5 separate regions of the Homo sapiens genome follow, and all the other regions are linked to region 2. The links come from fine-mapping of genetic effects on gene expression. A gene starts in region 2. Each other region holds a variant in brackets. All regions are shown on one strand. Distances are from middle to middle. Region 1 overlaps LMBR1 (limb development membrane protein 1). Region 2 holds the start of LMBR1 (limb development membrane protein 1). Region 3 overlaps RNF32 (ring finger protein 32). Region 4 overlaps LMBR1 (limb development membrane protein 1). Region 5 overlaps LMBR1 (limb development membrane protein 1).

The links.
Region 1: its variant is fine-mapped to the expression of LMBR1 in blood mononuclear cells (TOPMed, PIP above 0.99).
Region 3: its variant is fine-mapped to the expression of LMBR1 in whole blood (INTERVAL, PIP 0.96).
Region 4: its variant is fine-mapped to the expression of LMBR1 in whole blood (INTERVAL, PIP above 0.99).
Region 5: its variant is fine-mapped to the expression of LMBR1 in esophagus mucosa (GTEx, PIP above 0.99).

What each region holds. Positions count from the first base shown.
Region 1 is chr7:156,800,127-156,806,193 of GRCh38, reverse strand. All of the region lies in intron 4 of LMBR1 (limb development membrane protein 1), which reads left to right. Among named protein-coding and RNA genes, the nearest start is that of LMBR1, 90 kb to the left of the region's middle. The variant AGG/G (reference allele first, on the strand shown) is at 3,404.
Region 2 is chr7:156,890,371-156,896,437 of GRCh38, reverse strand. LMBR1 (limb development membrane protein 1) reads left to right here and starts at 3,255. Exons shown (of 17, transcript NM_022458.4): 1 at 3,255-3,510. The coding sequence starts at 3,445. LOC102723795 (a long non-coding RNA gene) reads right to left here and starts at 3,040. Exons shown (of 4, transcript XR_928253.3): 1 at 2,775-3,040; 2 at 926-1,006. RefSeq lists an enhancer at 652-731 and silencers at 3,034-3,613, 3,664-4,163.
Region 3 is chr7:156,671,919-156,677,985 of GRCh38, reverse strand. It overlaps RNF32 (ring finger protein 32), which reads right to left. Exons shown (of 9, transcript NM_030936.4): 8 at 2,123-2,290; 9 at 856-1,567. The coding sequence ends at 1,331. It overlaps LMBR1 (limb development membrane protein 1), which reads left to right. Exons shown (of 17, transcript NM_022458.4): 17 at 1-195. Among named protein-coding and RNA genes, the nearest start is that of RNF32-AS1, 15 kb to the right of the region's middle. The variant C/T (reference allele first, on the strand shown) is at 3,455.
Region 4 is chr7:156,767,216-156,773,282 of GRCh38, reverse strand. All of the region lies in intron 5 of LMBR1 (limb development membrane protein 1), which reads left to right. Among named protein-coding and RNA genes, the nearest start is that of RNF32-AS1, 110 kb to the right of the region's middle. RefSeq lists an enhancer at 5,126-6,067. The variant A/G (reference allele first, on the strand shown) is at 3,755.
Region 5 is chr7:156,847,983-156,854,049 of GRCh38, reverse strand. All of the region lies in intron 1 of LMBR1 (limb development membrane protein 1), which reads left to right. Among named protein-coding and RNA genes, the nearest start is that of LMBR1, 42 kb to the left of the region's middle. The variant C/T (reference allele first, on the strand shown) is at 3,584.

The DNA.
Region 1 (6,067 bases), 90 kb after region 2:
GTACTATAAACTAAGACATTGTTGAGAGAAATTAAAGAGTACCACAATAAGTGGAGACAGATACTGTGTTCATGGATTCGAAGACACTTTATCAGTTTGGGCTGCTATAACAATACCATAGACTGGGTGGCTTACAATACAAAACAAATATTTTTTACAGTTCTGGAGGCTGAAAGTCCCATATCAGGGTGCCACCATGGTTGGGTTCTTGATGAGGACCCTATTCTTGGCTCACGGATGGTTGTCTCCTCGCATCCTTCCATGGCTGAGAGCAGAGACAGAGAAAGCAAACTCTCTTCTGTCTCCTCCTATAGGGGCACCATCCCATCATGAGGATTGCCCTCTTGTGACCTAACTACCCCCAAGGGCTCCTGTCTCTAACGACCATCACACTGAGGATTAGGGTTTCAGTTATGAATTTGGGGGTGGGGACAGAAGCATTCAGTCTGTAACAGCAATATTAAGAGGTCAGCTCTCTTCAAATTGATAGAGATTCAACACCATGCCTGTCAAGATTCCAGCATACTTTGTAGAAATTGACAAGCTGATCTAAAATTCGGATGCAAATTCTATGGACTTAGAATAGCCTAAACAACTTTGAAAGATAACAAAGTTAGAGGATTGACCATCTGACCTAAAGACTCTTTTAAAGCTACAGTAATCAAGACTGTGTGGTGTGGCTGGGCACGGTGGCTTATGCCTGTAATCCCAGCGCTTTGGGAGGCCAAGGCAGGCAGATCACTTGAGGTCAGGAGTTCGAGACAAGCCTGACCAACATGGTGAAACCCTGTGTCTACTAAAAATACAAAAATTAGCCTGGTGTGGTGCATGCACCTGTAATCCCAGCTACTTGGGAGTCTGAGGCAGGAGAATCGCTTGAACCTGGGAGGCGGAGGTTGCAGTGAGCCGAGACGTGCCACTGCACTCCAGCCTGGATGACAGAGCAAGACTTTGTCTCAAAAAAAAAAAAAAAAAAAAGTGCATGATGTTAGCATAAAGATAAACAGATCAAATCAGCAGAATAGACTGTCCAGGATTAGATACATACATATATTGTCAATTGATTTTTGACAAAGGTGCCAAGGGAATTTAGTGGGAAGATGATTTTTTTTTAAACAAATGGTGCTAGAACAATTTTTTAATTATAGGCAAAAAATGAACTTCAGTCCATACCTGGCACCATTCGCAAACTGTAACTCAAGGGATCATCGACTTAAATGTAAATCCTAAAACTATGAAACTTGTAGAAGAAAATGTAGGAGAAAGTCTTTGTAACATTGAACTAGGCCATAATTTTTTAGGTAGGATAGCGAAAGCACAATCCATAAAAGAAAAAAATGGATAAATTGGACTTCTAATAAATTTTGTTCTTTAAAGATACTGTTAAGAGAATAAAGAGAGTCTACAGACTGGGAGAAAATATTGACAAATCACATACCTTATAAAGGAGTTGTATTCAGAGCCCATAAAGAACTTGTCAAACTCAGTAATTAAAAAAAAATGAAAAAATGGGCAACAGATTTGAAGAGATACTTAGCTAAAAAAGACATGAATAGATGGCAAATAAGCTCATGAACAGATGTTCACATCATTATTTATTAGATAAATGGGAATTAAAACAGCAATAAGATATTCCTGTGTACCTGCCAGAATGGTTAAAATATTATTTTTAGTGAAAATGTGGATGAACTTGATCTCTGCTGGTGAGAGACTGTAAAATACAACCACTTTGGAAAACATTTTGGCAGTTTCTTAAAATGTTAAACAGGTATCTACCATATGACCTATGTATTTCCCAAAAGAAATGATCGCATAGGTCTACACAGACTTGTACATGAGCATTTATGACTATTTTATTTTTAATAGCCACAAATTGGGAACAACATAGATTGTTTGCAGGTGAATGGATGCAGTCCAATAGCGATTCAATCTAATCTCAAAATAGTTGTGCTAGATAACAGAAGCCAGACAAAAACAAGAGTATATATCACACAATCCATTTGTATAATGTTCTAGAAAATCCATCTTTTTTTTATTTTATTTTATTATTATTCTACTTTAAGTTTTAGGTTACATGTGCACAACGTGCAGGCTTGTTACATATGTATACATGTGCCATGTTGGTGTGCTGCACCCATCATCTCCTCATTTAGCATTAGGTATATCTCCTAATGCTATCCCTCCCCCCTCCCCCCACCCCACAACAGTCCCCGGTGTGTGATATTCCCCTTCCTGTGTCCATGTGTTCTCATTGTTCAATTCCCACCTATGAGTGAGAACATGCGGTGTTTGGTTTTTTGTCCTTGCGATAGTTTGCTGAGAATGATGGGTTCCAGTTTCATCCATGTCCCTACAAAGGACATGAACTCATCCTTTTTTATGGCTGCATAGTATTCCATGGTGTATATGTGCCACATTTTCTTAATCCAGTCTATCATTGTTGGATATTTGGGTTGGTTCCAAGTCTTTTCTATTGTGAATAGTGCCACAATAAACATACGTGTGCATGTGTCTTTATAGCAGCATGATTTATAATCCTTTGGGTATATACCTAGTAATGGGATGGCTGGGTCAAATGGCATTTCTAGTTCTAGATCCTTGAGGAATCGCCACACTGACTTCCACAAGGGTTGACAGTCCCACCAACAGTGCAAAAGTGTTCCTATTTCTCCACATCCTCTCCAGCACCTGTTGTTTCCTGACTTTTTAATGATCGCCATTCTAACTGGTGTGAGATGGTGTCTCATTGTGGTTTTGATTTGCATTTCTCTGATGGCCAGTGATGATGAGCATTTTTTCATGTGTTTTTTGGCTGCATAAATGTCTTCTTTTGAGAAGTGTCTGTTCATATCCTTCGCCCACTTTTTGATGGGGTTGTTTGTTTTTTTCCTGTAAATTTGTTTGAGTTCATTGTAGATTCTGGATATTAGCCCTTTGTCAGATGAGTAAGTTGCAAAAATTTTCTCCCATTTTGTAAGTTGCCTGTTCACTCTGATGGTGGTTTCTTTTGCTGTGCAGAAGCTCTTGAGTTTAATTAGATCCCATTTGTCAATTTTGGCTTTTGTTGCCATTGCTTTTGGTGTTTTAGACATGAAGTCCTTGCCCATGCCTATGTCCTGAATGGTAATGCCTAGGGTTTCTTCTAGGGTTTTTATGGTTTTAGGTCTAACATGTAAGTCTTTAATCCATCTTGAATTAATTTTTGTATAAAGTGTAAGGAAGGGATCCAGTTTCAGCTTTCTACATATGACTAGCCAGTTCTCCCAGCACCATTTATTAAATAGGGAATCCTTTCCCCATTTCTTGTTTTTGTCAGGTTTGTCAAAGATCAGATAGTTGTAGACATGCGGCATTATTTCTGAGTTCTTTTCTAAAGTGCAGAGTCAGTGGCTGACTGGGAATC[AGG/G]GGGAGGTGGGGAGTGGCAGGGGGCAGGGATTATAAAAGGATATGAGAAAATTTGGGGGTGATGGATGTGTTTATGTTCATTAGCTTAATTGTGGTGATGGTGTCATTGGTGCATTCTCATGACAAAACTTATCAAATTATATACTCCATGTGTAGCTTATTTTATGTAGTTCAATAAAGCTGTTAAAAATTAATATTTCTTATATTTGTATATGTTATAATTTTGTTCATTTTGTACTGACAATTGAGAATTAATTCTGAGACTACTTCTTTAGTTCAGCCTGTGACCTTTTTCCTGAGAGAGTCTTTTCCTGTTAACATTTAGCTATATGGATTGTAATATTGTTTGTTTATGGAACTCATTTTTATTGATTACTCAGCACTGTAGCAGGCATTGGGAAATAAAAAATGAGGTGTAGAAATATATTCATGCCTCATGGACCTTTGATCTAGAGATTTGTAATCATACATTTGCAAGCATCTCTAAAGAATATAAGAAGTTTAGGGGCCAGGCGTGGTGGCCCATGCCTGTAATCCCAGCACTTTGGAAGGCCGAAGCGAGTGGATCACCTGAGGTCAGGGGTTCAAGAGCAGCCCAGCCAACATGGTGAAACTCCGTCTCCACTGAAAATACAAAAATTAGCCTGGCGCAGTGGCGCGTGCCTGTTATCCCAGCTACTCAGGAGGCTGAGGCAGGAGAATCGCTTGAACCCGGGAGGCGGAGATTGCGGTGAGCCGAGATTGCGCCATTGCACTCCAGCCTGGGCAACAGAGTGAGACTCCATCTGAAAAAAAAAAGGTTAGGAAATGGTGGAATTTATGTTGCCTAAAAACATTACAGCATATTAGAAGGAATAGCTTAAGTTTTTCTTGCTCTGGGACAAGGGCACGTTTCTGAACCTGAAGTCCGTCTGTAAAACGGGGGACCTTCCCTCATAAAATATTAAGGTGGTAGCTGGCTGAGTGCAGTGGCTCACATCTGTAATCCCAGCACTTTGGGAGGCTGAGGTGAGTGGATCGCTTGAGCCCAGGAGTTTGAGACCAGACTGGACAACATGGTGAAACCTCATCTCTACAAAAAATACAAAAATCAGCCTGGCACGGTGGCATGTGCCTATAGTCTCAGCTACTTGGTAGGCTGAGGCGGGAGGATCACCTGAGTCTGGGAAGTCAAGGCTGCAGTGAGCCATGATCACACCACTGTCTCAGAAAAAAAGATAGCATCTTAACGTATCCAGAACAATGCCTACTATGTTACATACCTAACAGTGACAGGCATACCTTGGAGATACTGCAGGGTTGGTTCCAGTGTACTGTGATGAAGCGAATGTGGCAATAAAGTGAATCACACAAATTTTTTGATTTCTCAGAGCATATAAAAATTATACTTAACACTATAATGCCATTTATTAAGTGTGCAATAGCAATGTGTGTACATGCCTTTATTGCTAAAAAATGGTAACAATTATCTGAGCCTTTAGTGAGCTGTAATCTTTTTGCTGGTGGAGGTCTTGCCTTGATTTTGCTAAAGGTTGCGTGACCGTGGCAATTTCTTAAAATAAGACAACAGTGTAGTTTGCCATATTGATTGACTCTTCCTTTCACAAAAGATTTCTGTGTAGCATGTGATGCTGTTTGACAGCATTTTACTCACAGTAGAAGTTCTTTCAAAATTGAAGTCCATCCTCTCAAACCCTGCCTCTGTTTTATCAACTAAGTTTATGATATTCTAAGTCCTTTATTGTCATTTCCACAATGTTCACAGCATCTTCACCAGGGTAGATTCCATCTCAAGAAACCACTTTCTTTGTTCATCCCTAAGAAGCAGCTCCTCGTTCATTTCAAGTTTTATCATGAGATTGCAGCAATTCAGTCACATCTTCAGGATCCACCTCTAATTCCAGTCCTCTTGCTATTTTTACCACATCTGCAGAGACTTTCTCCACTGACATCTCAAACCCATCACTTCCAAACTCCAGGTGAGGTTGATATTTTGACCTCCCATGAATCACAGATATTCTTAATGGCATCTAGAATGGTGCATCCTTTCCAGAAGGTTTTCAGTTTACTTTGCACAATCCATCAGAGGAATCTGTAGCAGGTATAGCCTTACAGAATGTATCTTAAATAATATGACTTGAAAGTCAGAATTACTCCTTGATCCATGGGCTACAGAATGGATGTTGTGTTAAGGCATGAAAATATTGATCTTTTTAAACATCTCCACCAGGGCTCTTTCATCTCCATCAGCAGGTGCATTGTCAATGAGCAGTAGTATTTTGAAAATCTTTTTTTTTTTTTTTTTTGAGTAGCAAGTCTTAACAGTAGGCTTAAACTATTTAGTAAACCATGCTGTAAACAGATGTGCTGCCATCCGGGCAGGTTTGTTGTTCTTGTTTATAGACCACAGGCAGAATGGGCTTAGGATAATTCTTAAGGGTTTTAGGATTTCTGGAATGGTGAATGAGCACTGGCTTCAACTTAAAGTCACTTTCTGTATTTGCCCCTAACAAGTGAGTCAGCCTGTTGATTGAAGCTTTGAAGCCAGACATTGAACTTGTCTCTGGCTATGCAAGTCCTAGATGGCGTCTTCTTCCAGTGTAAGGCTGTTTTTGTCTACCTTGAAAATCTGTTGTTTTGTGCAGCCACTTTCATTGATGGT
Region 2 (6,067 bases):
TCAATTAAACTTCCTTTGTTTATAAATTACCCAGTCTTGGGTAGTATCTTTGTAGTAGTGTGAGAATGGAATAATACAATAGTATATTGTTTTGTGTGGTTTTGAACTTTACCTAAATGGAGTCACTGTGTGTCTTCTTCTGGTACTTTCTTTTGGTCAACACTTTGTTTTAGAGATTCATCTGTATTGCTGCTTGCAGCTATTGTTCACTAATTTTTCAGAATCGCATTCTGTCCCACGAACATATCAGTTTATTTACCCATTCCACCGTGGATAGACAGCTGGGCTATTTGTAGACTTCTGCTAGTTCAAGTGGCACAGCTGTGGGGATTCTCATTCACATCTCTTGGTGTACATGCTCAAGAGCTTTTCTAGGATACATGGGTAGGAGTGCAACTGCTAGTTGCTTATCTTCAGCTTTACTGGATAATGCCAAATTATTTACAGAGATATCATATTGGTTCACACGACCTCCAGTGGCACAGAATTTCTACTGTTCCACATTCTTGTGACACTCAATATTGTCAAATTAGAAGAATTTTGCCCACCCAATGAAAGTGAAAAGGTACTTCATTTAGGTTTCAATTTGCATGTCCTGGGTATTGTTGAGATGAAACATATTTTTAAATGTTTATTGCCAGCCATGTTCTTCTGATATGAAATGAAACTTCATATCCACACAGCATATCTTGGTGGCCAGGAGGTGTCATCATCACATTTTAAGAACTCTGTGTCTTTTCTCCAAAACTTGTTCTAACTGCAGCCTTCCCCCCCTTTGGTGATGCAACTGTCCTTCTGGCTGCTAAGGCAGATGCCTTGGAGCCCTCCCTGTCTTTCTCTTTTTCTGACCACATCCCCATGTGATAGGAAATCCTGATAGGAAATCCTCCTTTCAAAATGCATTCAGAAACCGACCGCCTCTCACCTCCTCTGCTGCCTCCACCCTGGTCCAGGTCACTAGGCTCTGAATTTCTGCAATAAGTCTTCCTCATTTGCTGTCCAGGCCCTGAGCAGCAGTCAGATCACATCACACCTGTCAATAACCCACAGTGGCTCCTAACCTCTCCCAGAATAAAAGCCAAAGCCGTTACAATGGCCCATGTGGTCTTATACAACAGCGTTTAGGGATGTGGGAAAGAGGGTGTTGGCTGGGGTGATGGAGGTGACCAGGTCACCTATCTTCAGCTGGGCTGGGGCTTATGATGCAGTGGCCAGTGGCCATTGAGGGTCCCTAGGGTCCGTAAGAAAGGGCAAGTCCTAATGTACAAGCACTTTCCTATAGTTTTGTATTTTTCAATGTCCCACTGGCTAGAGCAGGTCACCCAGCCAGGCTGATTCCAGGGCTGGAAAGTAGAGTCCATTTCTTGCTGGGAGGAAGGACAAAGCCAGATGGCAGAGGGTGAGCGTATAGGGAGTGGTGAGTACGTGGCCATTGTTGAAGTTGACTACCCTGGGTTAAGTGTTACAAGTACCAGTGGTGGGTAAACCTCTAGGGATGATTGCATAAAAGAAAATCAAAAGGTCTAGATGGTTGGAGTATTGCATTAAAAAGATGAGGAATACTACATGCATTCACTTTCTGGAATCTGTGTTTAAATGCCATACACTTTAAAATCTAATCTGCTTGCCCTCTGATTTGGAGAGAATTAACCCAGAAATTATCCAGGTTCTTTAGGGCTCCAAGACATTCTAAAAAATAAAGGTGAACGTTGAATTTAACCAGTTGACAGTTGTTCTTGGATTATGATCAATCAGCCTGTGGCAGCAGGGCACATGCTGAGAACAAGCCTCAGGTTCTCTAAGTTCTCCCACCACCACAATGTTCAGCTATAGTGAACTCATAGAAACCGTGTGTCGGGGCCTCCAACTTCGCCAAGCACCATAAGAAGTTTGAGTTGTGAAAAAATTTTCTCTACTCAAAATTGTGAAGAGAAACGGCAAGGTTTAAATTACCACATATTTGTCTTTGAAGAACTTTACAACAACTTCATTGACTGTTAAATTTAGATTCATAAAAATCTAAACAACGGCCGGGCGCGGTGGCTCAGGCCTGTAATCCCAGCACTTTGGGAGGACGAGGTGGGCGGATCACCTGAGGTCAGGAGTTCAAGAACAGCTTGGCCAACGTGGTGAAACCCCGTCTCTACTAAAAATACAAAAATTAGCTGGGCGTGGTGGCGGGCGCCTGTAATCCCAGCTACTCGGGAGGCTGAGGCAGGAGAATCACTTGAACCCAAGAGGCAGAGGTTGTTGTGAGCAGAGATCGCCATTGCACTCCAGCCTGGGCGACAAGAGTGAAACTCTGTCTCAAAAAAAAAAAAAACAAAAACAAAAACTAAATGACATTTGAAAGCAATTTGTAGATTTTCACACTTCCTAAGAATTCTCAAAGATGCCAAAAACAAAAATCGCAGCCACTAGCAATTTAAATGACTTCCTCGTAGCCAAATAAATCCTAAGGTAAAATTATAAACATTCCCTTAAATTCAAATTTTATAACAAAAAGAAAGATAATAGGGAACGGAGGGTGAATTATTGTGTTTGATATATTTGGCGGTGAAAAATACATATATTACGTGCTGTTTAGGGTCCACTGAGAGTCATAAAACTGACCCTAGTGACCGAGCTACCGGAAGGACTTGGCAAGGGTCTAGCGAGCTCGGTTATCTGCGTTTTCCAGGTGGGGCAGCCCAAGACCCTTCTCAGACCCAGAGAAGCTGGGTTTCCGCCCAAAGCCCGGCCCCAAACCACCGATTTCCGACCTTTCAACCTACTTTGGCAGAGCAAGAGTTTCCGCGGGAGACTCCCTGCTTCCCTCTGCCCAGGTCCCCTGAGGCCGAGTGCGGTACTGAGTGCTGAGTAAGGGGTGCCGAGTGCCAAGCACTGAGTAACTGGGGGAGGGGAACCATGCAGCTGTCATAAATAATTAGCTCCTGTGAGGAACAGGAACTCCGAGACTGCGGCCGGGCCAGGTGGGCAGAGGTCGCAGCGCCCTCGCCGCGTTCCCCGTCCCCATCCGACGCCAGGACAGCGCCTCCTTAACTGGGGTAGCCCCTGAGAGCGTGGGCGGAGCCCCGCCCCGCGACCTCAAGGCCCCGCCCCCTCAGCGCCTCCCGGCCCAGCAGCTCGGAAGACCGCGAGGCGCGCTTTTCTGACGCATCGGCGCCTTTCGTCTGACGTATGCCTGCACCGCCCCCTCCCCTCCCTGCCCCGCCCCCGCCCCGCCCCCGACTGCGCGGCGCCCGCCCTCCCTTAGTCAGAGCTGCTCGTCTGAGGCTGCTGAGGCGACGGCCGGTGTCGTGGTCGCGGTACCTGTTCCAACACGGCTCGCGGGCCCGTGCCGGCTCCGGTCCCCGGCGCGGCTGTCCGAGCCCCTGCGGCGGGCGGACGATGGTGTGGCGGAGCACGCGGACGCGGGCGGCGCGGCGGCGGGCATGAAGGAGGATGGAAGGGCAGGACGAGGTGTCGGCGCGGGAGCAGCACTTCCACAGCCAAGTGCGGGAGTCCACGGTGCGTGGGGACCGAGGCAGCCCTGACAGTCCCGCGTGCCCGCCCGGGCCCTCCGTCCCCGCCCCCGGGCCCCCGGTCCCCGGACCCCTCACCTCCGGGCCTCGCCTCGCGCCTCCCGCCCCGGCCTCTGCCGCTCTCCCTCCCCACCCCTCCTCTCCCCTCCCCTCCCCTTCCCTCCCCACCTCTCCTCTCCCCTCCCCTCCCCTTCGCTTCCTCTGCCTGCCCCCCCGCTCCGCTCTTGCCTCCCCTGCCCCCTCGCGCTCCCTCCGTTCGAGCCCCGACCCCGCCCCCGCCCCGCGGCCTCGGTGCTGCCCTTCCCTTCCCGCGGGGAGGGCTGCGGTGCGCGCCGCGCTCTGGGACCCCAGGGGCTTCCTCTCTGGGCGGGTGTGCGGCTCGCGCCTCGGGGTGTGGACGGCGGCCCCGCCAGTGCGCGCCCCCGCGCTCCGCCGCCAGGCCAGGTAGGCAGGTGGATGCGCAGGCGTCCCGGAGAGCCTGGGTGGGCCCGGCGGGTCCGGGAAGGGCCGGGCTGCGCGGAGCCCGCCCGCCTCTCGCGTTTGGACCCGGCCGGTTACCTTGTCCCGGTCAACACCTCCTGCCCTCCTGGCGCCTCACGTTTCCATCCCTCTTTCATCTCCCCCAGCCCCCACGTGGGTTGAGTTCGAAACCTTACCGTTTGGGATGAGAATATTGGTTATTTTTGGGAGTGAGGACCTCAGCAAAAGTCCATTTTGCTATGGAAGCAACTTCTTAGGGAAGCAGCTTCTTTTTTGGCCCATGTTCCATGTGTGCTGTTGGCAGGAGTCAGGAAGCGGACTTGACCTTGGAAAGTCTACTTTGATGTTTTTATCTTTTCATGATGCTCTAGAATGTATTGTAATTGGGTTTATCTGTGTTTTCATAACTGTTGTAAAATATGTCAATTTTTTATGTTTATATTTACGCCTCTCCTAAGTTGTCTACGATTCAGTCACACTTGGTTTGAGGTGAAAAAATTCTGCTTTAGAATTATCTAATTTGTGTACTCACTGATCTTGAAAATTGAGAATCACTTTGGAAGTCATACTTTGAATAAAGAGGACATATAAAGTCTGAGCTGGTGGAATTTGAGTTAGTGGAATTTGGTACACATTTAGTTGTAATTTTTATAATTGAAGCTAAAATACACAGAGATAAGTTCATGTAATCATACATGTACCCTTCAGATCATTTCATACTAAACACGCCTGTGTACTCCTGAATCCACCAGGAGTTTGAGACTGGTCAGCCTGGGCAACATAGTGAATCCCCATCTCTACCATTATAAAAAAATAAATAAATAAACACAATTTTACTAGGATCCCAGAGACTGATTCCTTTCCCTCTTCCAATTACTTTCTCCTCCACCAAGGGTAAACGTTGCCCTGGCTTCTAATATCATAGATTAGTTTTTGCTTAGTTTTGAACTTTATGTAAATGGAATCTTACCGTATATACTCTTCTGTGTCCAGTTTCTTGTACAATGTTTGTGAAATTTCTCCATGTTGTATGTGGTTATAATTCATTCTCGGTGCAGTAGTTGTGTGACTATAGCACAATTTATTTTTCATTTTACTGTTGATGGGCACTTCAGTAGTTTCTAGGTTTTGGCTATGAATATATATATGTGTATATATATGTGTATGTATATATGTGTGTGTGTGTGTGTGTGTGTGTGTATATATATATATATATATATATTTTTTTTTTTTTTTTTTTTTTGTGATGGAGTCTCGCTCTGTCTCCCAGGCTGGAGTGCAGTGGCACAATCTCGGCTCACTGCAACCTCTGCCTCCGGGATTCAAGTGATTCTCCTACCTCAGCCTCCTGAATAGCTGGGATTACAGGCACACACCACCACACCCAGCTAATTTTTCTATTTTTATTAGAGACGGGGTTTCTCCATGCTGGCCAGGCTGGCCTTGAACTCCTGACCTCAGGTGATCCACCTGCCTTGGCCTCCCAAAGTGCTGGGATTACAGGCATGAGCCACCACGCCGGGCTGGCTATGAACTTTTTGTACATAGCTTTTGGTGGACATGTTTGTGCATTTCTGTTGGGGATAGCCCTAGGAATGGAATCCCTAGGTTAAAGAGTGTGCATTTGTTCATCTTTAGTAGATACTTTAAAACAATTTTCCAAAGTGGTTGTACCAGTGTACACTTCCGCCAGTACTGACAGTCTCAGAGGTGTGGTTGTTACTCATCTTTATCAATACTTGATATTTTCTGTCCTTTTTAATTTTAGTCATTCTAGCAAGTGTGTTATAGTGTTCATCATACAAATAATTTTAATTTGCATTTTCCTGATAACTAATGAATTTGAGCACCTGTTTGTTTATTAGCCATTTGGAAATCTTGTGAAGGGTCAAATTTTTTTCCCCATTTAAAAATTAAGTTTATCTTTTTAATATTGATTTGCAAGGTCTTTACAGAATAACTTGTATTATATTGTTATACAGGTGGATATGATTTCTTTGTCAGAAATATATACTGCACATATTTCTTTCCCACTCTGTGGATGCCTTTCACTTTTAATGATA
Region 3 (6,067 bases), 220 kb after region 2:
GGACTGCTCTGGCCTTTGACACGTGCCTGTGCTTTGCCTGTCAACGCTATGGGGAGAGAGATGTCAGCTTACAGAAAATTGAGGTTCTGTGATTCAGTTTCCCTCTGCTCTCTTAGAATAAAAGTGCTTACTCATTGTTTAAAGCATTCTCCAAATTAGTCTGCAAATTTTTTGATAGTATACATCCTTAAAAAATGAGCACATCCCAATATATGCATATTTATTCATAAATGATACATACATATGTAGCTATATAATGTGTACATCACAAAACATAGGAGAGTATTTTTTCTAAGGGATGAGATAAGAATAAATAGAAATTTTGGCATTTCTTCTCACATTAGATGCTGGGTTATTCTGAGCCCATGCCATGTGCACACCCACTTGGCCTCTTCCTCTTAGGCCTACACCCTGCCCTTTCCTTGCCCCTTGTAGTTACTGTGGCTGGAGTGATGAGCGCCACTCCCAAGCATGGCCTGGAACAATGTCCTCCTGCCCCTCCACCAGCAGTGACAGGATTCACTGGGGACTCGGGGGCAAAGGAGACTGTGTCACAAGACAAAAGGAGCCAGGGTCACACATGGTGTACCCTCGCCCTGCCTCACCCATGGCTGACATGGGTTGGACACCTCAGAAATCATGTGTCTTCAGCGAGCCACTGAGAGTTGGGGCTTTATCTGTTACTCGGCTAGGGGTAACCTAACCGATGAGACTGTAACTGGTTACTGTAAATAACCAAGCTCCCAGTAATAGTAAACCAGTGACAAAAACAATTCTTATCCAAAAAGGTTCACTTTTTTTTAAAATGTGTGAACTAAAACAGTCTTTATTGCTCTAAGACATTAAAATTTGCACTTTTTTGATGTTGAATACCACTGAATATTTTATTTTTATATTTTATTACACAGAAATACAGCAATTATTACAAAACGAGTATTAGGAATGGCAAAGGCTTTAGGACAGACTATTAGCGGAAAACATTTGGAACTTAAGGAGTGTTTTACATTTGGAACTTACTTTAAGGAGTGTCGTTCAGACACTAGCTATATCTTAACCTCAATTTTTAGAAGTAAGCAAGCTCTCATTTTTTGCTATTCATATTTGAAGTGATTAAACTCATAAATTTGAAATTTACTTTTTAGAGACCAAAGATTAAAATTAGGTGGGATGTCAGCTTTTAAAATATACTAAGATTTCCTACAACTACCAATAGCTTATTTCCCTGGGAAACAGATTACATTGTAGTACTTAACCCAGAACTCATGCAGTTCATCCAAAATGATGGTAAACTTTTTTCCTCAGAATTACCTAACTTTCCTTGACTATGAATTCAACATTCAAGAATCTTCTTCTGGTAGCAGGAGCGGCAGAGAGGACAGGCATGGAAAGGAGGCCTGTCTCCCACGGAGAACTCCTCTAGTGCCAGCAGACACGCATGGTGGAACACATGTGAGCAGGACAGGAGGGCCATCTCTCTGGAACGCCTGCCTGCACCCACGCGCTGACCGCCAGCAGCGGAGAGAGGGGCCAGGCAGATGGAGCACTCGTGGGTCTCCCGGCGCAGAGCCTGCGGCACACAGGACGGGAAGAGGCCACGCGGGTTAGTTTCATCACAGCAGAAAGTTACTTAAACTGAAATGCGAACCATGTGCCCCGAGACATGGGTCTTCGAAACATGCGGAAGTTTCATTCTGTGTTAAAATCACATGCATTTTATTTATATATATACATATATATATACACACACATATACTCTGTTACTCCTGGGAACTGTGGAAAGGGTTAGTAACCCACCTGTGATAAGCAACATCCAACAGGAACTTCCAGAATTTCAAACTGAAGGGACCTTTGCCGTCACCCTAAAGCCCATGAGGAAAGTCCTACCACAGGTGCAGGGGCAGCTAGGGCAGCGGTTACCCCGGGACTGACACTCCTAGGCTTCCCAAAGTGAGTCCTCGACCTCCCCCGACATGCCACCCCCACAGCCTCCACGGCTGCACCCCGGGCCTGACACTCCTAGGCTCCCCAAAGTGAGTCCTCGACCTCCCCCCACATGCCACTCCCCACAGCCTCTGCAGCTGCAGCTGAGTCTGCTGGTTGCCAGGCTGCCAGCCAAACCTACCTGCACTTGGATTTTCTCCCATTCCTCTTCTGTGATCTCATGGCCACATTTTTCTTCCAACTGCTGAAGAACACTTCGATTTATGGCCAAGCACTGATCGATTTCTGCAAAGAGCTCTTCAATGTTGGTGTTGTATGAGCACAGGATGCGGTGGCTGATTTCTGTGAACTGAGGAGGAGGCGGGGGCGGGTAAGCTCACACCTGAGCTCGGTGGAGGTTGCAGGGAAGCGCTCTCGAGCCTGACCATCTATTTTGGTAACCTTCCTCGTCTCTGTCTTCGAATAATACTTTTTAGGGAAATAGATATATGTCTATTTTACTTAACTATAAATCCAGATAATCTGGACAGATGACCACAAGAACCCCTATCTGATGGAGTCCAGAACACACTACCCCAAAATACGGCACCTTGGCATACTGAATATTTTAAGGAAAAAACATTCCTTCCCAAAGGAATTTGAGAAATGACAGCTGCAGGAGGGACCGTCTGACCTCTCCCCACCCCTAAAGTGGGTCACAGGACCCTCCTGTGAGAGGCACCCTCGTCTCCAAAGACGGAGGGAGCCGGGAGGAGACAGCACACAGGCCTTGCCGTGGTTCCCACCGACCACCCTCAGCTCACCCCTTGTCCTGTCATGCTTCCCCACGACCTCTGTGTCCTCATCCAACCTAGCATAGAAAGCGCTCAGGCGTTACTGTCTCTTCGGGTCTCCGCTGCCCCTTCGGGTCGCCGCTGCCTCTTCGGGTCTGCACTATCTCTTCCGGTCTGCGCTGCCTTAGGAAGGCTTCCATACCACATGGGACTTACTAAGTAAATCCGTGTAATTTTCTCGTTAAGCTTAACTTACAGGGCTCCAGCTGAAGAATTTAGGAGGGTAGGGGAAAAGGGTATATTGTTTCCCTCCCCTGCTGTTTTCTTGGTTGTGAGCTTTGACCATTAGCAGGAACACATTTGAAATTAAAAGTTGAGAGAAAAGTTCGAATTTCGCAGGATCAGCTCTGTCCCATAGAAACATACTGTGAGCTACGTATGTAATTTTAAAATTTCTGGCAGTCACATTAAGTTTTTTAAAAGGTGAAATTAATTTTAATATTGTATCTGACCCAACAGATCCAAAATATTATCACTTCAACGTTTATTAATTGAATACAGTACTTTGTTTTTTTTGGTATTTTTGTTTGGTTTGGTGGAGACAGCATCTCGCTCTGTCACCCAAACTGGAGTGCTTGGGGCCATCAATGCTCACTCAGCCTCGGCCTCCCGGGCTCAAGCCATCCTACACTAGAAAGGTCTGAGTCATTACAGAGTGGCCACCAGTGTCATCTGAGGCA[C/T]GGGTAGGTGGCTCATTCAGGGCCACACCAGCGGCTCCTTTTTAGTACATGTGAAGAGTGTAAAGCAAAGGAGAATAAGGTGTGTAAAAGGTTGTGCCAATGGTGACTGTCAGCCACACTTCCTGCCCTCTTGCTTGTCCTTTCAAGTACAGAGCTGTGGCTCACCCAGAGATGACATTTCCCATTCCCCCATGCCCAGGTGGGGCCACGTGAAGTAGTTCTTCCAGATGGACGTGGCTCATGTCTCTTCTGGGTGTTCTCCAGGCCCGGGGGGTGGCAGATAAAGGGCAGAGGGAGACAGTTCCCGAGCCCCACAGGCTGGCATGTTGCCTGCAAGCCAGGACACCTGAACTGTCCTATGAGACCGAAGCTCTGGCTTTCAGTCACTGAAATTCGGGGGGTTATTTGTCCAGCAGTGAGAAGTGCCGATTCAGCAGTTACATCTGCTTCATGGAATCCGGCTTGAAGCACAAAGAAGGATGAAATGAACAAGTCCCGTGGAGATCTCACACATTTAGATATGTGATGGGGAAAATGCATTTTGGATGGTCCATGACTGTCCAGGTTTCAAATATTCTAGTCTACTGGAGTCCTCACGTTCACTTTTTCTTTTTTTTTTTTTTTTATTAATGTGGAGCAACCTGGCAGAACGTAGTGTGTATTTAAATCACCAGACTTCTGAAGGTGCCTTTGAGGACATGGAGTTCTCTTCCAATTCTCTCCCTTCTGCAAAAAGATCGTGAGACAGCGCAGGGTCGAGTGCTGTGGAGACTATGAGCTGCCTTTCTCCCTGGGATGTTAGAAGAATGAGTATTGGCTTTAAGGATGAGAGGTCCTTTTGAGTAAAGAACATTCTGTGAACACAGCAGGCAGTCCACAAGGGTTGGGGTTTGAATGAAGGGGGTGGCTGAGGATCTTCCAGGCACCTGTGTTTTGGGATTAGCCGTACTTGGAAGCCTGGTGGAAGCTGCTTTTCTATTTATGAGTCAAATTCTCTTTCACTCTGAATGTAATTATAATTGCCAAGCAGCTGTATCTTAATTTAGGGTCTTGAATCGGTAACGTTTCCTAAGGCTTTAATTTTAATTTTCTTTATTCCTTGGCCTTTCAAATATCTAATAATATCTAAATAAATTATTGAAAGTAGAAGAGTTCTCTATACATTGTAAAAGGAAAAATTACTTGGAAATATACACAGTTACCTCCAATTGATGCTTTGTAATTCAGGTTTTCTGTAAATTGTTTTTAAGTGTGAGATACTTTCCACATATGCCTGAAAAGCAAGATCTTTTCTTCCTTCAAAATTATACCTCAGAAAAAGGGTCACATTCTAGTCCAGACCTTGCAAAGTGTTTCAACTTGTGAGGTATGTTCTGAGATTAGTTTTGGACATAAAAGTACTATTTGGAATGACTGATCAATTGAATGAAATGATCGATATGATCTGGGTGTTTATTCTCAAGGTGGGGCCCAGACCCCGCAGCCTCAGCTCCTGGGAATCTGTGAGAAAAGCAGAGCTTTTCAGGCTTTGCCCCGGGCCTGCCGAGGCCACAGTCCGCGGGGTGAGCCCTGCGATATGCTTTACAGCCCTCCAGGTGATTCTGAGGCCCATTCAGGTTTAAGAACCACGGTCATAGAAGTTACCGATCACATTTTTAAATATGCAAAGTTATTTAACACAGCATTAGTTATCATTCCTGGAGGTGTCACCTCCCAACTCCAAGCATGGGTATCGCTGTGCGTGCGCTTTCAGAAGCCACTTGAGAGAGGAACAGAGTAAGTGTGCGGGCCACATATAAATATGTATGTACATCTATATGCATTTATGTTACAGTGTCACCTGTGTGTGCATATATTCTATCATACGTGAGTGTATCGCTCTCTCTACAGGATGCCTGGAGCAATCCCAGCTGTCCTGATGTTACATAAATGAGTTACTTAGCTCAAGATAAACTTCCAAAGACAGCATCATTAGGACTTTTTAAAGTACATTTTCCTTCAAACACTTTAGATGGAAATAGAGCTCATATGCTCTGAACAACTGTGTTGGGTGACTCCTAAGTGGCCCTATTGATGACAAAGACCCTGAGGTCCAATACTGATGTCACCTATTGCCTCCTTCTGCCTCAGTCACTGTGGCATACAGGTCCTATCTCCTTTATTAGTCCTGGGGCCAGGACTGTTCTTAACGCTGGTAATAGCATCCAGGGTTTTTAAAGGGTTTTGCACCTGTCGTCGTCACACCCTGCCTTTAAACCCTCTCAAGAGCTCAGTACACGCACCGACCATAGTAGGCACTTGTTGAAAGAAACAGACTTGTCAGTTTTGCATATATACCAAATAAATCTCAGGGAGGGTGGCCCTTAACACTTAGTGCTCCAGTCTTAATGGTAACTGGTGTAATATAGCAAGAAAGCAAATAAATGCTTAGGATATTTTAATATACATAAGAATCACAAACTAATTCCACACTCAGGTGTTTGATTCCACAGAAGAAAACCTAGCATGGCAGACGCAAATATTCCTTTCCACAAGTTTTGATGAAATATTCCATTCCACAAGTTTTGATATGTACTTTTGCTATTCAACTGAAATTTCTTCTCATTTCCATTA
Region 4 (6,067 bases), 120 kb after region 2:
GTAAATTGCTTTGGGCAGTATGGCCATTTTAGCAATGATTCTTCCTATCCATGAACATGGAATGTTTTTGCATTTGTTTGTGTCATCTCTGATTTCCTTGAGCAGTGTTTTTTAATTCTTGTAGAGACCTTTCACCTCCCTGACTAGCTGTATTTCTAGGTTTTTATTTTATTTTATTTTATTTTGTTTCATTTTTTTGTGGCCATTCTTGGATGTTATTGGTCTATAGAAGTGCTACTGATTTTTGTACATGGATTTTATATCCTGAAACTTTGCTGGCATTGCTTATTAGATCCAGCAGCTTTTGAGCAGACACTATGGGATTTTCTAGATATGAAATTATATCATCTGCAAACAGAGATAATTTGACTTCCTCTTCCTATATGAATGCCTCTCCTCTCCCCTCCCTTCCCCTCCCCTCCCCTCCTCTCCTCTCTTCTCTTTTCGTTTTTTGTCGTCCAGGCCGAAGTGCAGTGGCACAATCTCGGCTTGCTGCAACCTCTGCCTCCCGGGTTCAAGCTATTCTCCTGCCTCAGTCTCCCTAGTAGTTGGGACTACAGGTGCCTGCCACCACGCCCAGCTAATTTTTTTATTTTTAGTAGATGCAGGATTTCACTGTGTTGGTCAGGCTGGTCTCAAATGCCTGACCTCAGGTGATCCACCCAGCTCGGCCTCCCAAAGTGTTGGGATTACAGGTGCGAGCCACCACACCCAGCCTTTTATTTCTTTCTCTTGCCAGATTGCTCTGGCCAGGACTTCCCAGTAATATGCTGAATAGGAGTGGTGAGAATGGGCATCCTTGTCTTGTTACGGTTCTCAAGGGGCTATGCTTCCAGCTTTTGCCTGTTCCATATGATGTTGGCTGTGGGTTTGTCAAAGATGGCTCTTATTATTTTCACATATGTTCCTTCAAAGCCTAGTTTGTTGAGAGTTTTTAACATGAAGGGATGTTGAATTTTATAGAAAGCTTTTTCTGCATCCGTTGAGATGATCATGTGGTTTTCTTTTTGAGATGGAGTCTCGCTCTGTCACCCAGGCTGGAGTGCAGTGGTACGATCTTGGCTCACTGCAACCTCTGCCTCCCAGGTTCAAGTGATTCTCCTGCCTCAGCCTTCTGAGTAGCTGGGATTACAGGCTTGCGCTACCATGCCTGGCTAATTTTTGTATTTTTAGTAGAGACGGGGTTTCACCATGTTGGTCAGGCTGGTCTTGAACCCCTGACCTCATGATCCACCTGCCTCAGCCTCCCAAAGTGCTGGGATTACAGACATGAGCCACCACGCCTGGCTGATCATGTGGTTTTTGTTTTTAGTTTTGTTTATTTGATGAATCACATTTATTGATTTGAGTGTGTTGAACCAACCTTCCATCCCAGGGATAAAGCCTACTTGATCATGGTGGATTAGCTTTTTGATGTGCTGCTGGATTTGGTTTGCTAGTATTTTGTTGAGGATTTTGCATCTGTGTTTATCAAGAATATTGGTGTGAAGTTTTCTTTTTCTTTTTGTGTCTTAGCCAGGTTTTGGTATCAGAATGATGCTGGCCTCATAGAATGAGTTAGGGAGGTGTCCTTTATTTTTAAATTTTTGGAATAGTTTCAGTAGGAATGGTACCAGCTGTTCTTTAAATATTTGATAGGATTCGGTCATGAATTTATCTGATCCTGAGCGTTTTCTAGTCAGTTGGCTTTTTATTACAGACTCGGTTTCAGAACTCATTATTCATCTGTTCAGGGTTTGAATTTCTTCCTGGTTCAGTCTTGGGAGGCTGTATGTTTCCCGGAATGTTTGTATGTTTATCCATTTCTGCTAAGTTTTCTAGTTTGTATGCATGAAAGTGTTCATAATAGTCCCTGATGGTTTTTTGTATTTCTGTGGGGTCAGTGGTAATGCCGTCTTTGTCACTTCTGATTGTGATTATTTGGATCTTCTTTTTATCTTTATTAGTCTAGCTAGCAGTCTATCTACCTTATTTTTTCTTTCAAAGAATCAACTCCTGGTTTCATTGATCTTTCATATGGTTTTTCGTGTCTCTATTTCATTCAGAACAGCTCTGATTTTGGTTATTTCTTGTCTTCTGGTAGCTTTGGGGTTGGTTTGCTCTTGTTTTTCTAGTTCCTCAAGTCGTTTGTTTTCCCATTTATTGACAGTTATACTTGGTATTCTTTTTAAAATCTTATGTCTTGATTACATTTTTTTCATATTTCTAATGTGTTTTTGCTACTTTATTTTGTTGATTTTTCTAGCCAGACATTTATCAGAATTCTTTTGAATTCTGAATTCTTCGATTTATTTTTTCCTACTTTTTTGCTCTTTTTTATTATACTTACTTTAATTTCCTGTTGTATTTTGTTTTATTTATTTGTTTCTGAGACAGGATTTCACTCTGTTGCCCAGGTTAGAGTGCACTAGCGCGATCATAGCTCACTGTAACCTCAAACTCCTGGGCTCAAGTGATCTTCCCACTTCAGCCTCCCAAGTAGCTGGGACTACAGGTGTGTGCTTCCATGCCCATCTCATTTTAAAATTTTTGTTAGAGATAAGGTCTTGCTATGTTGCCCAGGCTGGTCTTGAACTTCTGGGCTCAAATGATCCTCCTGCCTCCCCCTTTAAAAGTACTAGGATTACAAGCATGAGCCATCGTGCCTGGCCTATTTCTTCCTGTATTGTGGTTTGCTAGGATTTATTTTGTTGTTCCTTTTACAAATTCTTGAGTTGAGTGCTTCATTTTTATTTTTATTTTTTCTTTCATAATAAAACTCATTTATTTGAGCATCTGAATACAGATTTTCTACACTTTATGTTTTTATAAAGTATTCTTGTTTTGTTACTTTTTAGTTGGCCTATGATTGCATTAGTGTATTTTAATTTAAGCTTTGTTGTTAATTTTTTGCATTCAGATATTTTGACTTATTCTCTGTTGTTAATGCAGTAGTTCTGATGCAGTTTAGAACTTGATATATTTTGTTGGGCAGGGTGGTGCGCACTTGTAATCCCAGCTACTCAGGGGGCTGAGATGGGAGGATCACTTGAGCCTAGGAGTTAGAGACCAGCCTGGGAAACATAGTGAGATCTCATCTTAAAAAAAAAGATAGACATACTTTTTGTAGTTTAATTTCAAATTCATTTTTGTAAATTTTCCTTTAGTGATTGAAATAGAGGTATATTCCCTATAAGGGATTACTTTAGGTTTATTAAGTCAACCTTGTTATTATTTTTCAGATTCTGTGTATCATTGTTAATATTTTTTCATTCTTGGGCAGTCACAGACTGATAGAGTGGTGTGTCAGGAGAGGCGGTCTGCATGGGCCGTAAGCATTCCTGCGTTTTCTTTCTGGGTGTGCCAAGACTGTGAGGTCTTGACTGCTCTTTACCTGGGCCATTTGTTAGGGTTGTGTTTCTTCTGAGCAAACTTGAGGGATGAAGTGATGGCTCCCTCTGGGCCACAGAGCAGCCTGGCTTATTACCACGTGCTGTGAAAACAGTGGATTCCCCACGCTCACTGTTCTTTAGCTGCTGCACAGATCTGTCGCATATGCAACATCCATCCATAAGACTTGGGAGCAGGGGAAATGACCTGCTGGCACTCATGCCTCTTGCTGTACCGGAGTAATAAAATCCTTTGCTTCTGATCCAGGAGTCTTGTGTCTCCTGCCAGCATCCATGTAACAGCAACAGGCTAACTTATTAATTTGTAAGGATAGAACCAGACCCCAGACCTGACAGTTTTGGCAATGAGATTGGATGGTGCAGAG[A/G]AAGAACAAGGACCTTGTATTCCAGGTTTAGTGATATGAAAAGACCTTCAGATCTGGTGGTGGATGTGCTCAACTCAGTGGTGAGAGGGAGGCGGAGGAGGAAGGGCCCCTGGTAATTACATTACTCCTACCTGTAATGAGTCTGAATGGTGCTTTGGCTGTCGTTCATTCCTCTCCTGTTGTAAGACGAAGGAATGTTGGTATGACACCAGGGCAGTAAGCCCCCAGCTCCAGTCAGAAGGCATTATGGGTGTGGCTGCTGAGTCAAGGAGTCTCAGTCCTGAAATGAGTGGTGCCTCAGCTTCCTGAAGCACTGGGATTACAGGTGTGAGCTACTGAGCCTGGCATCAGGTGACTTTTTGAGTAGGGTGTTTGGGCTTATTCCATCTGTGATGTAGCTTGCACTGCTGACTCTATATTAAATTGGTATTCGTGTTTTACATGATCATACTATGCAAGCTTGGCCTCAGGGACTGTGCCTTCCCTTTGGCCCAATATAAACAGTATAGGGCCCCAGGAGGAGAAGCGAATATCTCAGCTTTTGTGAGAGACTTAATAGCTCACAAATACTCCAGGAGGCCATTTCCTAAAATAGCAGGTGCCTCTCCTGCCTGCCACTGCCTCCGAGTGGACTCCTGAGAAAGGACAGCTGTGAATCTGCTGCTCAGCTCTTGTTGAAATGGATTACCCAACCTGTGGGGCCATGTGACTCTCTAGCCTGGCATCCCTCTTCTGGGGTGGAACAATTTAGATTCCATGTCCAGTAAAATGGAAGAAGCTTAACAGGCCTCCTAGCCAAATAAAAATGGTCTCTTCCAGAGCTCAACCTGCCTGGCGCTACCTGGTATCAAGGTTTCATGTGAAAAAGTGGCAGATACCTCCTGGGGGAAACCCTATTTCCTAATCCACTGCTGAAGCCAAACCACCCAGTTAGGCCCTCAATCCCCTGAGCCCTCCTAATGTCGAGGCTGGGCTCTCTGACCTTTGGCTGCATCAGAAGCTGATGGTATTCACTGAGTGGTGGCAGCCCATCACAATGGAGGCATACTTAGGAATTTTTTATTTTTAAAATTCTAAATGAATTTCTTATCAAATTTGCATAAACATGCTAAATATAATGAATAAAGGTTTTCTGTTGTATTTATTTATTTACTTTTTTGTTTTTTTTTGAGACCGAGTCACTCTGTTGCCCAGGCTAGAGTGTAGTGGTGCAGTCTTGGCTCACTGCAACGCAACCTCCGCCTCCCAGGTTCAAGCGATTCTCCTGCCTCAGCCTCCCAAGTAGCTGGGATTACAGCTAATCTTTGTGTTTTTAGTAGAGACGGGCTTTCACCATGCTGGTCTTGAACTCCTGACCTCAAGGGATCCATCCCCCTTGGCCTCCTAAAGTGCTGGGATTACAGGTGTGAGCCACTGTGCCCAGCCTCGTTTTCTGTTTATTTAAATATTGTATAAAGAATAATAACAATGAAGCGCTATGTACTCACCAGTTAATCTAAAGAAATAGAACATAATAATATAGTGGATAGTAAATTTCTTCAATATGAAATGTCCTACTTTATCCCATTTAATGTTTTTTGTTTTGCATTCTTCTGTATTTAAACCAGACTCCTGTACATTTTTAAAAAATTAAACAATAATTTTTAATCATTTTCACTTTTTTTAGTATCACTTTCGTTTTGATAGGTCTTAGACAGTTAATTGTGTTTTTTGACCTAATTTGCATATATAGTTATAGTAGATATATTTGGTTTTTATCATTTCCTGTTTTCGTATTTTATATATTTTGTTATGTTTATATTTTGCTAAACTTGATTTTCTGTTTTTTACTATATTAACTATTACATTTTTGTTCTGTTTTCTAGTATCTTAGTAATATTACTTTTGATACTAGTTACTATTACTGTTACTAGTTTTATTATTTTGATACTAGTAAGATTAGTGGTAACCTTAAGTTTTTAGTAGCATTATTTAACTTTAATTTCTCTGCTGTCAGTAAAAAGTGAAATATTATCGTTTTAAATGACCCCTATTTAAAATGGAATTTTTTCTTTAACTCTTTTTTTCTCATCTGAATGTCACTTCTTAATGTATAAGATAATAAAAAATTATTAAATGATTTATCTTTCAAAAATATTTTTTGGCATTGCATTTTAGTTTATAACTATATATATCGTTATTTATATTTCTCTTTATTTAGAAAAAATTTGTCATTGTTCACCAACAATTCCGTGCAGTCACTTCACAGTCCTTTGTGAAGGACCAGGTAGGATGGTGACGTGGGCTCCTGTACTCAGCAGAGCCGTGAGTTTG
Region 5 (6,067 bases), 42 kb after region 2:
ACCTTTATGTCTGATTTACTTGAAGATTGCTTTTAGTGTATGGCATATGATGTATATAGGTGGTTTTTTTTTTTTTTTTAATTTTATTCTATGTGGGCCAGGCACGATGGCACATGCCTGTAATCCCAGCATTTTAGGAGGCTGAGGTGGGTGGATCACCTGAGGTAGGAGTTCGGGACCAGCCTGGCCAACATGATGAAGCCCCATCTCTACCAAAAATACAAAAATTAGCCGGGTGTGGTGGCAGGTGCCTGTAATCCCAGCTACTTGGGAGGCTGAGGCGGGAGAATTCCTTGAACCCAGGAAGTGGAGGTTGCAGTGAGCTGAGATCACGCCACTGCACTCCAGTCTCAGTGACAGGATGACACTTTGTCTCAAAAAACAAAAACAAACAAAAGCTTTATTCTATGTGGTGACTTCCTTTGGGTTCATCATTTGGCAGCTGCTTGAGAATCTTCATTTGATACCCAGTTTCTGCATAGATTTAATCCAGAGAAGTTATTCTAGGACTTTTAGAAAGTGGTTCTATTTTACTTTTAATTTTAAATACAGTTTTGGATGGCATGACAAAAATTAGTGTAAATGTTTTTCTTTCTAAAGCACAGGGTGTGAGATCATAAGGGATAGTGCTTTTTTTTTTCTTTTAACATTAAGTAGTTTGGAATGATCTGTCCCTTAATCTGGCTAATATTTCTTTATGTGACCCATTTTTTTTTAAAAGAGAAAGGAATGTGCTTATTACAATATATTAGTGAAATTAGTATTAACATTTTCTACTGTGGCAACTTACAATAAAAAATGAAGCATTATTCGGCCGGGTGCGGTGGCTCACGCCTGTAATTCCAGCACTTTGGGAGGCCAAGGCGGGCAGATCATGAGGTCAGGAGATCGAGACCATCCTGGCTAACACAGTGAAATCCCGTCTCTACTAAAAATACAAAAAATTAGCCGGGTGTGGTGACGGGTGCCTGTAGTCCCAGCTACTTGGGAGGCCGAGGCGGGAAAATGGCCTGAACCTGGGAGGCAGAGCTTGCAATGAGCTGAGATCGGGCCACTGCACTCCAGCCTGGGCGACAGATTGAGACTCTGTCTCAAAAAAAAAAAAAAGCATTATTTGTAATTTACTGTTCAAGTTATGTTGTATATGTAATTACTTCTGTGCTTATCTTCTGTACTTTTTTGGCAGTTAATCTAAAACAGAGTTTCTCAACGTTGGCACTGTTGACATTCTGGACAGATTGTTCTTTATTGTTCGGGTCTGTTCTGTGCATCATGGGATTTTAACAGCATCTCTGTTCTCTGACCCCAGATGCTAGTAGCACGATTCACCTGGTTGTGACAACTAAACTGTCCCCAGACATTGCAACATGTCTCCTGGGGGGGACATTGTCACCCTCAGTTGAGAATCATAGGTCTCAACCCTGTTTAGCAAAAGGCAATAATGTAAAGATTTTATTTGGTGTTACTTTTCCAAATAACGTAAAACTCCAAGTGAGAATCATAGATAGATCTCTAAAGGATTACTTGAAAATTATTGTGTCAGGGGTGTAGAAGCCTATAATTTTTTAAATCTAATGCATGCATCAGATAGTATAGAAACATGCTATCCATCAGATAGTACAGGAAACCTTAAGAAGAATAAGGCTCCTATCCAAGTATTTTCCATAAGCAATCTCTTATTTTTTTTTAGTTTTTCTAAGTGATTTCTGTAATGCTTGGTAATATTTGTTGGCTTACCAACATTGAACACGTATATTGACTTCCCAATACAGACACTGAGGATTTAACTACTAGCTTTCTGATAGGATTTACACTACAGTAGTGAGTATTCACACTACTTTGTTTTTCCCATTTCCTCTGGTGTTTATTGTTATATTATTATTTGTTATTCTCTTGGTTACCCTTTTGAGACCTGGACCGAAATCTTTATTACTTGTTATATTACTTTGTTCCTAGAGGTGTGTTCTTAAAGTCTCAAGTGGCAGCTATTATTGTGATTCTTGTTGCTAGTAGTAGTAATGGTAACCTAATTATCTAAAAGTGGAGGAATGTTTCTTTATTGTAATATAAATTCCCAGGAATAACAGTATTGAATCAGAGTGCATACATAGGCCATCATATTGCTTTCCTGAAAGGTTATTAGAATAAATTTTATTGTGTTCATTTTGAAAATAGTACTTTCATCCTGTGTAAATAAAAGTCCTTATTGTTAAAACTTTAATTTTTTCATAGATCTAAGGAAGAAGGTAAAAGGGTAAAAATAATCTGAAATTCCACCATTCTGAAATAAGCACATTGTTTCATACCTCTATGTATATCTATACGACTTAAATAATTTTACATTAGTCACTATGTGTTTACTGTTTTTATGTGCGAGTATCTTTACTTTTTCTCTCTCCATTGTTTTTGGCTTACAATCATGACTTATTTCTACCCTCTTCTCTCCTCACTCCCCAGCCCCCCAACTTTACCATCTCCTCAAGAAACCAGTAGGAAGAGTAATCTGGTGTATAGTCGTCCATTCTTGTTACTGGGCCTAAAATATTTCACAGCATGTTGTATTAAAGTATAATATTATTGATGACATTAATGAACTTGAAATATGCTGTGATAATCTTGAAAAAGTGAATATTTACCCCTTGCTAAGGGTCTTAGTGTTTTCTGTGAGGAAGCATTGCTTTGCCTTTATTGAAGCACAAGTTGAAAGACACAGGGCAATTTATTATGACAGTTTAGCAACTATGAGAAGAGTAGGTATCAGCATGTGTATTGTATTCAAATTAATTGTTCTGAAGATAGGGCATTGGTAATTTTGTTTACTTCTCTGTTTTGAAGGGTGTGTTAGTTCATTTTGCGTTGCTGTAAAGGAATACCTGAGACTGAGTAATTTATAAGGAAAAGATAGTTATTTTGGCACACAGTTCTGCAGGCTCTTTGAGAAGCATATTGCCGGCATCTGCTTCTGTTGAAGACCTCAGAAAGCTTCCAATCATGACAGAAGGTGAAGTGGCGGGTGTCATATGGCGAGAGGGAGCAAGAGGGAATGGATAAAGAGAGAGAAAGGAGGTGCCAAAGTCCTTAAACAACCAGATCCTGTGTGAACTAATAGAACTTACTCATCACCAAGGGGAGGGCACCAAGCCATTCATGAGGGATCTGCCTCCATGATCCAAACACTTCCACCAGGGTTCACCTCCAACAGTGGGGATCACGCTTCAACATGAAATTCTGAGGGGACACACATCCAAACCATTTCAAAGGGTGATTTGTTGCAATTACAAACAATAGAAAAGTGAACATCTTTATATATACATCCTTGTGTGGGTATACAATTGTATTTGAAAGGAATGCTTTCAGCTGCAAGCAAAAATATACCCAATGTGTTTTTAATGAAACAGAGGTTTTTCTCATAAAATGTCTGGAGGAAAGAACTATTGTTACATGCTACAGCATGGATGAACCTTGAAAACATTACGCTAAGTGAAAGAAGCCAGACACAAAAAGGCACATACTGTATGATTTTATTTATATGAAATACCCAGAATAGGCAAATACATAAAAACAGAAAGTAGATTGGTGGTTA[C/T]AAGAGTCTAAGCAGGGTGGGAGGAATATAGGACATTGAATTTAATAAACACATTTGTTACTAGCTGTCTTAGTCTGTTTTGTGCTACTGAAACAGAATACCACAGGCTGGATAATATATAATGAACAGAAATTTATTTGGTGTATGATTCTGGAGGCTGGGAAGCCCAAGATCAAGGGGCTGGCATCTGGCAAGGGCCTTTGTGTTGTATCATCCCATGGTGGAAGGCAGAAGGGCAAGAAGGGGGCCAGACTTGCTTTTATAACAAACCTGCTCTCACCGTAACTAACCCACTCCTGTGATAACATTAGTCAGTTTATGAGGATAGAATCCTCATGACCTGATCACTTTTGAAGCCCCACCTCAACACTGTTGCATTGGGAATTAAGTTTCAAATACATGAACTTTGGGAAACACACAAACCATAGCACTAATGCAATCGTATTACTTTTTAAAATTAGACTTTATTTTTTAGAGAAATTTTAGGTTCACAGCAAAATTGGGTGAAGGTAATGAGATTTTTCCATATATCCCTTGGCTCCACACATGCATAGCCTTGGCCATTATCAGCATCCCCCACCAGAGTGGAAAATTTGTTATGGTTGATGACCTTGGGTTGAACATCATGACTTAGATTCCATAGTTTACATTAGTGTTCACTCTGGTGGTGTACATTCCATGGGTTTGGAAAATTTTATAAGAACATGTATCTAACCTTATAGAATCATACAGAATAGTTTCACTGTCCTTAAAAGTTCTCTAAGCTCTGCCTGTTCATTCCTTCCTCCCCTCAACCCCTGGCAACAAACAACTGATGCTTTTAGTGTCTCCACAGTTTTGTTTTGCCTTTTCCGGAATATAGTTGGAATCATACAAATGTTGCCATTTCAAATTGACTTCTTTCACTTAGCAGCAAGCATTTAAGTTTCCTCCATGACTTTTCATTGCTTTGACAGCTCTTTTAATTTTTAACTTTTATTTAGGTTCAGGGGCACATGTACAGGTTTGTTACTATGTTTCACAGGGGTTTGGTGTACAGATTATTTTGTCACCCAGATAAGAAACGTAGTACCTGATTGGTAGTTTTTCCATCCTCTCCCTCCCATCCTCAAGTAGACCCTGATGTCTCTTGTTCCCTATGTCCATGTGTTCTCAGTATTTAGCCCCCTCTTATAAATGAGAACATGTGGTATTTGGTTTCCTGTTCTTGTGTTAGTTCACTTAGGATAATGGTCTCTAGCTCCAGCTCCATCCATGTCGCTGCAAAGGACATGATCTCATTCACTTTTATGGCTGCATACTATTCCATGGTATGTACATACCACATTTTCTTTATCCATTCTACTGTTGATGGTCATTTAGGTTGATTCCATGTCTTTGCTATTGTGAATAGTGCTCTGAAGAATATAATGCATGTATGTGTCTTTACGGTAGAATGATTTATATTCCTTCGGGTCTGTAGCCAATAATTGGATTGCTGGGTCAAATGGTAGTACTGTTTTTGTTTTGTTTTGTTTTGCTTTTTTTTTTTTTTTTGAGACAGAGTCTTGCTTTGTCGCCCAGGCTGCGGTGTCATGGTACGATCTCTGCTCACTGCAGCCTCCGCCTCCCAGGTTCAAGTGATTCTTGTACTTGAGCTTCCCTAGTAGCTGGGACCACAGGCTCCTGCCACCACAGCCAGCTAATCTTTGTATTTTTAGTAGAGACGGGGTTTCACCATGATCCCAGGTTGTTCTAGAACTCCTGACTTCAAGTGATCCACCCACCTTGGCCTCCCAAAGTGCTGGGATTACAGGGGTGAGTCACCATGCCCAGCCAGTATTTCTCTTTTAAATGGTTTGAGAAATTGCCACACTGCTTTCCACAGTGACTGAACTAATTGACAGTTCCACTAGCCAGTTTATAAGCATTCCCTTTTCTCTGCAACCTCACCAGCATCTGTTATTTTTTGACTTTTTAATAATAGCCACTCTGACTTGGTGTGAGATGTGATTTTGATTTGCATTTCTCTAATGATTAATAATGCTGAGCATTTTTTCATATGCTTGTTGGCTGCATGTATGTCTTCTTTTGAAAAGTGTCTTTTCTTGTCCTGTGCCCACTTTTTAGTGGGGTTGCTTTTATTAGACCTTTGTCAGATGCATAGTTTGCAAATGTTTTCTCCTATTCTGTAGGTTGTCATTTACGGTTGATATTTCTTTAGTTGTACAGAAGCTGTTTAGTTTAATTAGATTCCCATTTGTCAATTTTTGTTTTTGTTGCAGTTGCTTTTAGTGTCTTTGTCATGAAGTCTTTGTCAGGGCCTGTGTCCAGAATGGTATTTCCTAGGTTTTCTTCCAGAGTTCTATAGTTTTAGGTTTTACATTTAAGTCTTTACTCCATCTTTTGCATTTTTTTTTTTTTAGTGTTGAATGATCTTCTACATTTTAGTTATTTACCTATTGAAGGATATCTTGATTCCTTCCAAGTTTTGGCAATTATGAA